Linked DNA regions of Homo sapiens. The protein of the gene in region 1 purifies or fractionates together with the protein of each later gene. This does not show direct contact. Each region holds a gene or a part of one and is shown on either strand. Other genes may lie near its edges.

Region 1 (3,816 bases):
TATCTGTCAAGCAAGGGCCTCATGACTTTCAGATAGGATGACTGGGTTCACAAAGCATACAATTTTAAATAATTGTACCTTGATCAAAAAACACAAACCAAACCTGCACAAGGTGCAATGTTTCCAGCATTTTCTAAAGCTCTCATGATGTCCCAGTCTGCAGTTCATTTCTTAGAGAATGCCCAGAAGCTGAGCTGACTTTCTGTTTTCCTCCTTTACTCCTGAGGCGCCGGTTCCTTAGCCCCTCACCCTCCCCTGGGTTATCAGGCCAGGCCCCATGAGGTCCCCTATTTTCTAAAGTTACAGGTAAGATCTTCCTAGGCATGAAGTCATGGTCTTTTCGGTGTTCACCCTCCTGACCTCCCAAGTCCTCCTGCCTCAATCCTTTATCAAGGACAGAATTTACATCTTGGCATCTTGTCTTTAAGAACCCTGGAAGTTGAGGAGGTGGTCAGGGGAAGTCCATATCATTAAAGAAGATAATAGTTTTTGTTTCCATTTCTGTTGATTTTTTTAATCAATGTCAAACATTAGGTAAATATTCCTCTCCATTAAATGGAATTGTATGAGTGCCTACAAGTGTGCATTGAGTATGCATGTTTCATAGCAGAGATCAGATAAGCCTGTCCCTGACTTAGGCATTTACCTGGTTTATCACTCAACTGAACATTGCCAGGTGCTGGAGAGAGGTTTTTTGCTCGTTTTGTGTTTTTACTGCACACATGACAATTGTTTTTAACACACAAATGAAGGCAGGTTTTTTTAAAAAAAAGGTAAAAACTTGATATGGTTTGTCATCTAGTTAACAGAAATGCACCAATGCATTGCATTTCTGGTTTCATTAAGGCTAGATGAGATGTCACCATTTGGGGAAGTTGGGTGAAGGGCACACAAGACTCTTATTTTTGAAACTTCCTGTGAGTCTATAGTTATTTCAGAATAAAATGTTTAAAACTGTTTTTATTCCTTCTCATAATAAGTGTGGCTGAAGGCCAGGATATGAATTGTGACTTGTTCTTTCTGCTACACAAAGCTGAGGGGGTAGAGGGGTCAGAGTAAGAGTTATTTTCTCTTCCCACAGGCGACCTATTTGTTCTGGCTTTCCACCCCTAAGGAAGAAAGTATAGACCTTGGTTTTCAAAACCTTAGGCTAATGGGGTGATAAAGCTAGGCGGTCCCTGAGGAAAAAAAAAAAAAGAGCTTGGAATTGGCAAGACGGAGGTGGCCAGACTGGGGAGGAAAGAAGGATTTTCCAGGAGGGGTACTGCCCAGGCCCTGCTCATACACAGAAACAGAGCCAGGGACCGCTGGGGCATTTAAGTAACACAAGGCACTCTGTACAGGCAGCAGCGTCCGCGGTCAGAAGGCCAGCCACTGTGAAAGGCCAGTCTGTGTCCAGCCAGAACAGAGGGTCTGGCCCATGCCAAGGGACAGACAGCAGAAACACCACCACAGACAACCAGCACCCAATCCCTGCCCAGTCACCACTAACGACCCCAGGATGGCTGTGAGACCCTCAGGAGGACAGGGTCTTCAAAACACCCCACCCAGCTGGAAGCTCCTGCCAGCCATGAGGTGGGCACATGGAGCAGATAGAGGGAATTTAAAGCAATAAAGGAAGCTGACATTCCTTGCCCAGGAGTCTTAGGAACCAAATGTGGGCCCACGAATATTCTAAACTTTATATCCACCGCAGCGTGTTGGTTAATGAGGGAAGCCCAGGGGAGCACCTCTGTTTTAACCACAGCAAGCCAAGAGGAGCAAAAAGAAATAGCCTCAAGATGGTTTCAACGGAGCCAGGAGTTTGAAAGCCTTGGATTTATCTGAGGTGTCATACCTACATGAAACTACTAGGATGTGTCTCATACTTTCAAAATCAATGTTCAAAACACACAGAGCTCTCCCTTGTCTTTCTGATTCCCTGTCAGCCTGTCTATGCCTGGGGTGCCCTGGGAGGAGAGATGCCTTTACAAATAGCCCACAATGTCCTCCCATTTCAGCAATTTTTTTTTGAGATGGTCTTACTCTATTGCCCAGACTGGAGTGCAGTGGCACGATCTCAGCTCACTGCAAACTCTGCCTCCCGGGTTCAAGCGATCCTCCCACCTCAGCTTCCCAAATAGCTGGGATTACAGGCGTGCGCCATCACAGCCAGCTAATTTTTGTATTTTTAGTAGAGACGGGGTTTTACCATGTTGGCCAGACTGATCTCAAACTCTTGACCTCAAGTGATCTGCCCACCTCTGCCTTCCAAAGTACAGGGATTATAGGCGTGAGCCATGCGCCCGGCCCCATCTCAGCTTTTAACAACAAACCAGAGACCGTCAAAACAAGCCAGTAGGTTCTTGAAGCACAAAATGCAAGCATTCTAAATATCTAAGTGGTGTTTGTCTCCTTCTTAAATTTTAAAATTCAGCCTATTTTCATATACACTCATAAGGGTTAATCATGTTTTTACAACATTTTTCATCTGTTTACTGACAATCACAGAGGGTTTTTCTAATTTAATTGAATTAAAGTAAATCAAAGAGCATGTGTTGGTTTTCAAACAGGAAGAAGTCAGAATCTGTCTTTCTGTAGGATAAATGGCATTAAAGAGTTGAAAAGTAAATTTGATAATATGATGTTAGTAATATATTCATATAAAATAAAAATATTTTTCACTTACGGTCATTTCTTCACCATAGCCCACACAAAAATAACAAAAAATGGTTTTTTTAATTCCTACCAGGATTCACAAGATTATAATTGACTTTGTCAAAGGCTCACAATTTTAAAATGTAGTAGCAAAGAGAACGTCCAAGCTGGGTGATTCATCACTTCACAGAACTAACCCAGCCCAGTGGCTGAGAAGCTGAAGCAAAGCCCACCCTGGCTATAGGAGGCAGGATCTGATTATAAATATGCTACCTTCCTGCTGGTCTCACGGGAGAAAGGGGCTGGGGTGTAATGCTTTTCATCTTTGTCTCTATGTCTTAAAAGAAGCAAACTCAACTTCAAAGTATTCATCAATATGACTGTAAGGGTGCATTAGGCAACTCATGCAAAGTTCAAATTGTGAAACAGATTATGTTTTAATTACAAGATAATGAAATGGTCACTATATTTAATTTTTAAAGTATTGTTTCTGAATTATACAGGCTGCCATGAAACACCGTCTAACTTCTAGGTCAAGATTGAAGATTTTGTCTTTCTTTAAAACAAAAACTTCAGAGTTGTAATATCAACATTTTGAAATAGCAGTCTACTTCAAATATAAGTCTAAATATCAGGGAATTTCCTTCCCTAGCCCCTCCCAATTTAAGTTCTTTGAGGTAAAGACAAATGGATGCCCAGCCCCACACCCCTTTTTCCATAGCGTGGGTGTGGGTCTCAGCCCCTTTCTAGCCACATTCTATCTGGTGAATGAGGATCCAGCTCTCATAAAAGCTCCCACACCTCTCCCAGAATAAATAAATTAGCAAACCATCAGGGTTTGAAAAATAGTCTTTGCTACAACTGACCCAGTGGAGAAGCCCTCTAACATTCTCCTCTAAGGAGGCCCAGAACAATGCCTGCACCCCATTCCCAGCCCCACCAGGCTCCTTCCTTGGCGCCTGGTTTCCCAGCACATTTTCAGAACTCCTTGAAGAAGTGGCCCATCCCATCCCCTATTATGTCAGCTTGGCACTCACAGAACCACAGTGTCCCCCAACATTGCCCACTCCTTACCCTGCTGCTACTGCATGGGAACCCCTTTAGAATTAATCATGTGACTTCACCAAGATCTGCTATTTCCCTGATTGAACTTAAATTAACTGAGTGTCAATTTCCCTC
Region 2 (3,816 bases), on another chromosome or scaffold:
CACCTAAGGTCGGAAGTTCTAGACCAGCCTGGCCAACATGGTGAAATTCTGCCGGTACTAAAAATAAAAAAATTAGCCAGGCGTGGTGTTGCGCGCCTATAATCTCACCTCCTCAGGAGGCTGAGGCAGGAGAATCACTTGAACCCGGGAGGCGGAAGTTGCAGTGAGTCGAGATCATACCACTGTACTCCAGCCTGGGCAACAGTGCAAGACTCTGTCTCAAAAAAAAAAAAAAATTATCCAGGCATGGTGGCCCATGCCTGTAATTCCAGCTCCTTGGGAGGCTGAAGCAGGAGACTCACTTGAACCCGGGAGATGGAGGTTTCGGTGAGCCAAGAATGCTCCATTGCAGTCCATCCTGGGTGACGAGAGTGAAACTCCGTCTCAAAAAAAAAAACAACAGTATTTACTGTCTAGGCACGGTGGCTAAAGCCTGTAAGGTCTTTGGAAGGCCAACGTGGGTTGGAGGATGGCTTGAGCCTAGAACTTTGAGACCAGCCTGGGCAACATAACGAGACCCCATCTCTTTTTTTTTTTTTTTTTTTGGGAGACGGAGTCTTGCTCTGTCACCCAGGCTGGAGTGCAGTGGTGCAGTCTCCAATCTCAGCTCATTGCAACCTCTGCCTCCCAGGTTCAAGTGATTCTCCTGCCTCAGCCTCCTGAGTAGCTGGGATTACAGGCATGCACCACCACGCTCGGCTAATTTTTGTATTTTTAGTAGAGACAGGGTTTCAGCATGTTGGCCAGGCTGGTTTCGAACTCCTTACCTCAAGTAATCCTCCCGCCTCAGCCTCCCAAAGTGCTTTGATTACAGGCATGAGCCACTGTGCCCGGCCAAGTATTTATAATTTTCACTGAATTTCACAGAAGAAAAAGGAAAGAAAAACTGAAAGCCAAGCATGGTGGCCTGTGGTTCCAGCTACTTGGGGGAGGCTGAGGCAGGAGGATTGCTTGGGCCCAGGAGGTTGAGGCTTCAGTGAGCTGTGACTACAGTTGTGCCCCACCATAACTGGCTATTTTTTTCTATTTTTTTGTAGAGGCAGGGTTTCACCATGTTGCCCAGGCTGGTCTTGAACTCCTAGGTTCAAGTGATCTGCCCATCTCGGCCTTCCAAAGTGCTGGCATTATAGGCATGAGCCACTGCTCCTGGCCAAAACTTTTTTTGAGGTACAAAAAGACTCAAAGTTTGAAATCTGTTTTGAGGATTCGTCTTCAAGAGAAAGTCATAGGGAAAATGTTTTCTGTCAAGAAAATGTTCGTTAAAGGAAACAGATCCCTTTTAGGGCATGAACAAACTTGTCTAGTTCATAACATTTTAAAGCACTTTCTTGTGTCCTCTCATGTGATGCCAACTGTAGTGACCTTGTGGGGTGGGCTGGGAAGGACACAGGAGCTCCATTTCACAGATGGGAAACTAGTGGCTCGGAAAGCCCAAGTGATCTGCTGAGGGTCACACAGTGTGGGGCAAAGTCAGGACAGTCCGGTCTTTTTATATTCAAGTCTCTAGTTGTTTCCCCCTGGGAGACATTGCCTTCTTTCTAGAGATAATTAGCCTCATAATATCTGTAGATAAGTCCTTAGAATTTTCCAATCTCTTTTTAATCCTTTTTTTGTTTTCTTTTTCTTGAGAGTCTTGCTCTGTCACCAGGCTGGAGTTCAGTGGCACGATCTCGACCCACTGTAACCTCTGCCTCACAGGTTCAAGCGATTCCCCTGCCTCATCCTCCTGAATAGCTGGGACTACAGATGCGCGCCACCACGCCCAGCTAATTTTTGTATTTTTAGTAAAGATGGGGTTTCACCATGTTGGCCATGATGGTCTCTATCTTTTGACCTCATGATCCGCCCGCCTCTGCCTCCCAATGCTGGGATTACAGGTGTGAACCACTGCGCCAGGCCCAATGTTTTTTTTTGTTTTTTTTTTTTTTGAGACGGTGTCTCACTCTTGTTGCCCAGGCTGGAGTGCAGTGGCGCGATCTCAGCTCACTGCAACCTCCGCCTCCCGGGTTCAAGTGATTCTTCTGCCTCAGCCTCCCGAGTAGCTGGGATTACAGGCATGCGCCATCATGCCCAGCTAATTTTCTTTTTTTCTTTTTTTGAGACGGAGTCTTGCTCTGTCGCCCAGGCTGGAGTGCAGTGGCGCAATCTCGCATGCCCAGCTAATTTTCTATTTCTATTTTTCTAACCCCATAAAGATGGGGTTTCTATGTTGGTCAGGCTGGTCTCAAACTTCTGACCTCAGGTGGTCCGCCCACCTTGGCCTCCCAAAGTGCTGGGATTACAGGCTTGAGCCACTGCGCCTGGCTTTTTTTTTTTTTTTTTTTTTTGAGATAGAGTCTTTGCTCTGTCGCCAGGCTGGAGTGCAGTGGTGCCATCTCTGTTCACTGCAACCTCTGCCTCCCGGGTTCAGGTGATTCTCCTGCCTCAGCCTCCCGAGTAGCTGGGACTACAGGCGTGCACTGCCATACCCGGCTAATTTTTTGTATTTGAGTAGAGACAGGGTTTCACCATGTTGCCCAGGATGGTCTCAATCCCTTGACCTTGTGATCTGCCCACCTCGGCCTCCCAAAGTGCTGGGTTTACAGGCATGAGCCACAGTGCCCAGTTTTTTTTTTTTTTTGAGACAGAGTCTCACTTTGTTGCCCAGACTTGAGATCAGTGATGTGAACATGCCTCACTGCAGCCTCGACCTCCTAGGCTCAAGTGATCCTCCTGCCTCAGCCTCCCTAGTAGCTGGCACTACAGACACAGGTCACCATGCCCAGCTAATTTTTTTTTTTTTTTTGAGATGGCATCTTGCTCTGTTGCCCAGGCTGGAGTGCAATGGCGTGATCTCGGCTCACTGCAACCTCCGCCTCCCGGGTTCAAGCGATTCTCCTGCCTCAGCCTCCCGAGTAGCTGGGACTACAGGTGCCTGCCACCACGCCCAGCTAATTTTTCTATTTTTAGTGGAGACGGGGTTTCACCATGTTGGCCAGGATGGTCTCGATCTCTTGACCTTGTGATCTGCCTGCCTTGGCCTCCCAAAGTGCTGGGATTACAGGCGTGAGCCACCGCGCCCGGCCGAGACGGGGTTTTGCTCTTGTTGCCCAGGCTGGAATGCAGTGGTGCCATCTCGGCTCACCGCAACCTCCACCTCCTGGGTTCAAGCAATTCTCCTGCCTCAGCCTCCCGAGTAGTTGGGATTATAGGCATGTGCCACCATGCCCGGCTCATTTTGTATTTTTAGTAGAGATGGGATTTCTCCATGTTGGTCAGGCTGGTCTTGAACTCCCGACTTCTGGTGATCTGCCCGCCTCGACCTGCTGAAGTGCTGGGATTATGGGCATGAGCCACTGTGCAGAAAAAATTTTTAATAGTATTTTACCACCAGGGACAGGGACTCATGCCTGTAATCTCAGTACTTTGGGAGGCTAAGGCGGGAGGATCACTTTAACCTAAGAGTTCAAGGCTGCTGTGAGCTGTAAGTGTGCCACTGTACTCTAGCCTGTGTGACAGAGCAAGACCCTTTCTCTAAAGTACATACACACACACATACATACATACAGGACTTGGCCTTTCAGCTCCTATATTTGACTGAAGTTCTTCCACTATGCACTTATTGTCAGTTCTTGAGATGATGCTCTGGACTTAATAACTTTGATCAGACCTTCTAAACCCAAATTTGAAGTGAGGACCAGACCAGAAAATCTAGGATACATGATGGCTAGAGACACAGGTGTAGCTTTTAATAGATGCAGGCTAACAGCTGCCATTTTCCCATTCTCTAGATACATTATTCTATTTTCATCTTCCCCAGAACCCTGCAAGGCAGTG

What was found.
Region 2: the proteins of SH3BGR (region 1) and TRNAU1AP fractionate together in Homo sapiens (co-fractionation; one large-scale study listed by BioGRID). This does not show direct contact.

The regions. Positions count from the first base shown.
Region 1 is NC_000021.9:39,500,367-39,504,182, reverse strand, and holds part of SH3BGR (SH3 domain-binding glutamic acid-rich protein), read right to left. Parts: intron 1-3,816.
Region 2 is NC_000001.11:28,573,552-28,577,367, forward strand, and holds part of TRNAU1AP (tRNA selenocysteine 1-associated protein 1), read left to right. Parts: intron 1-3,816. UniProt on the Homo sapiens protein: Involved in the early steps of selenocysteine biosynthesis and tRNA(Sec) charging to the later steps resulting in the cotranslational incorporation of selenocysteine into selenoproteins. Stabilizes the SECISBP2, EEFSEC and tRNA(Sec) complex.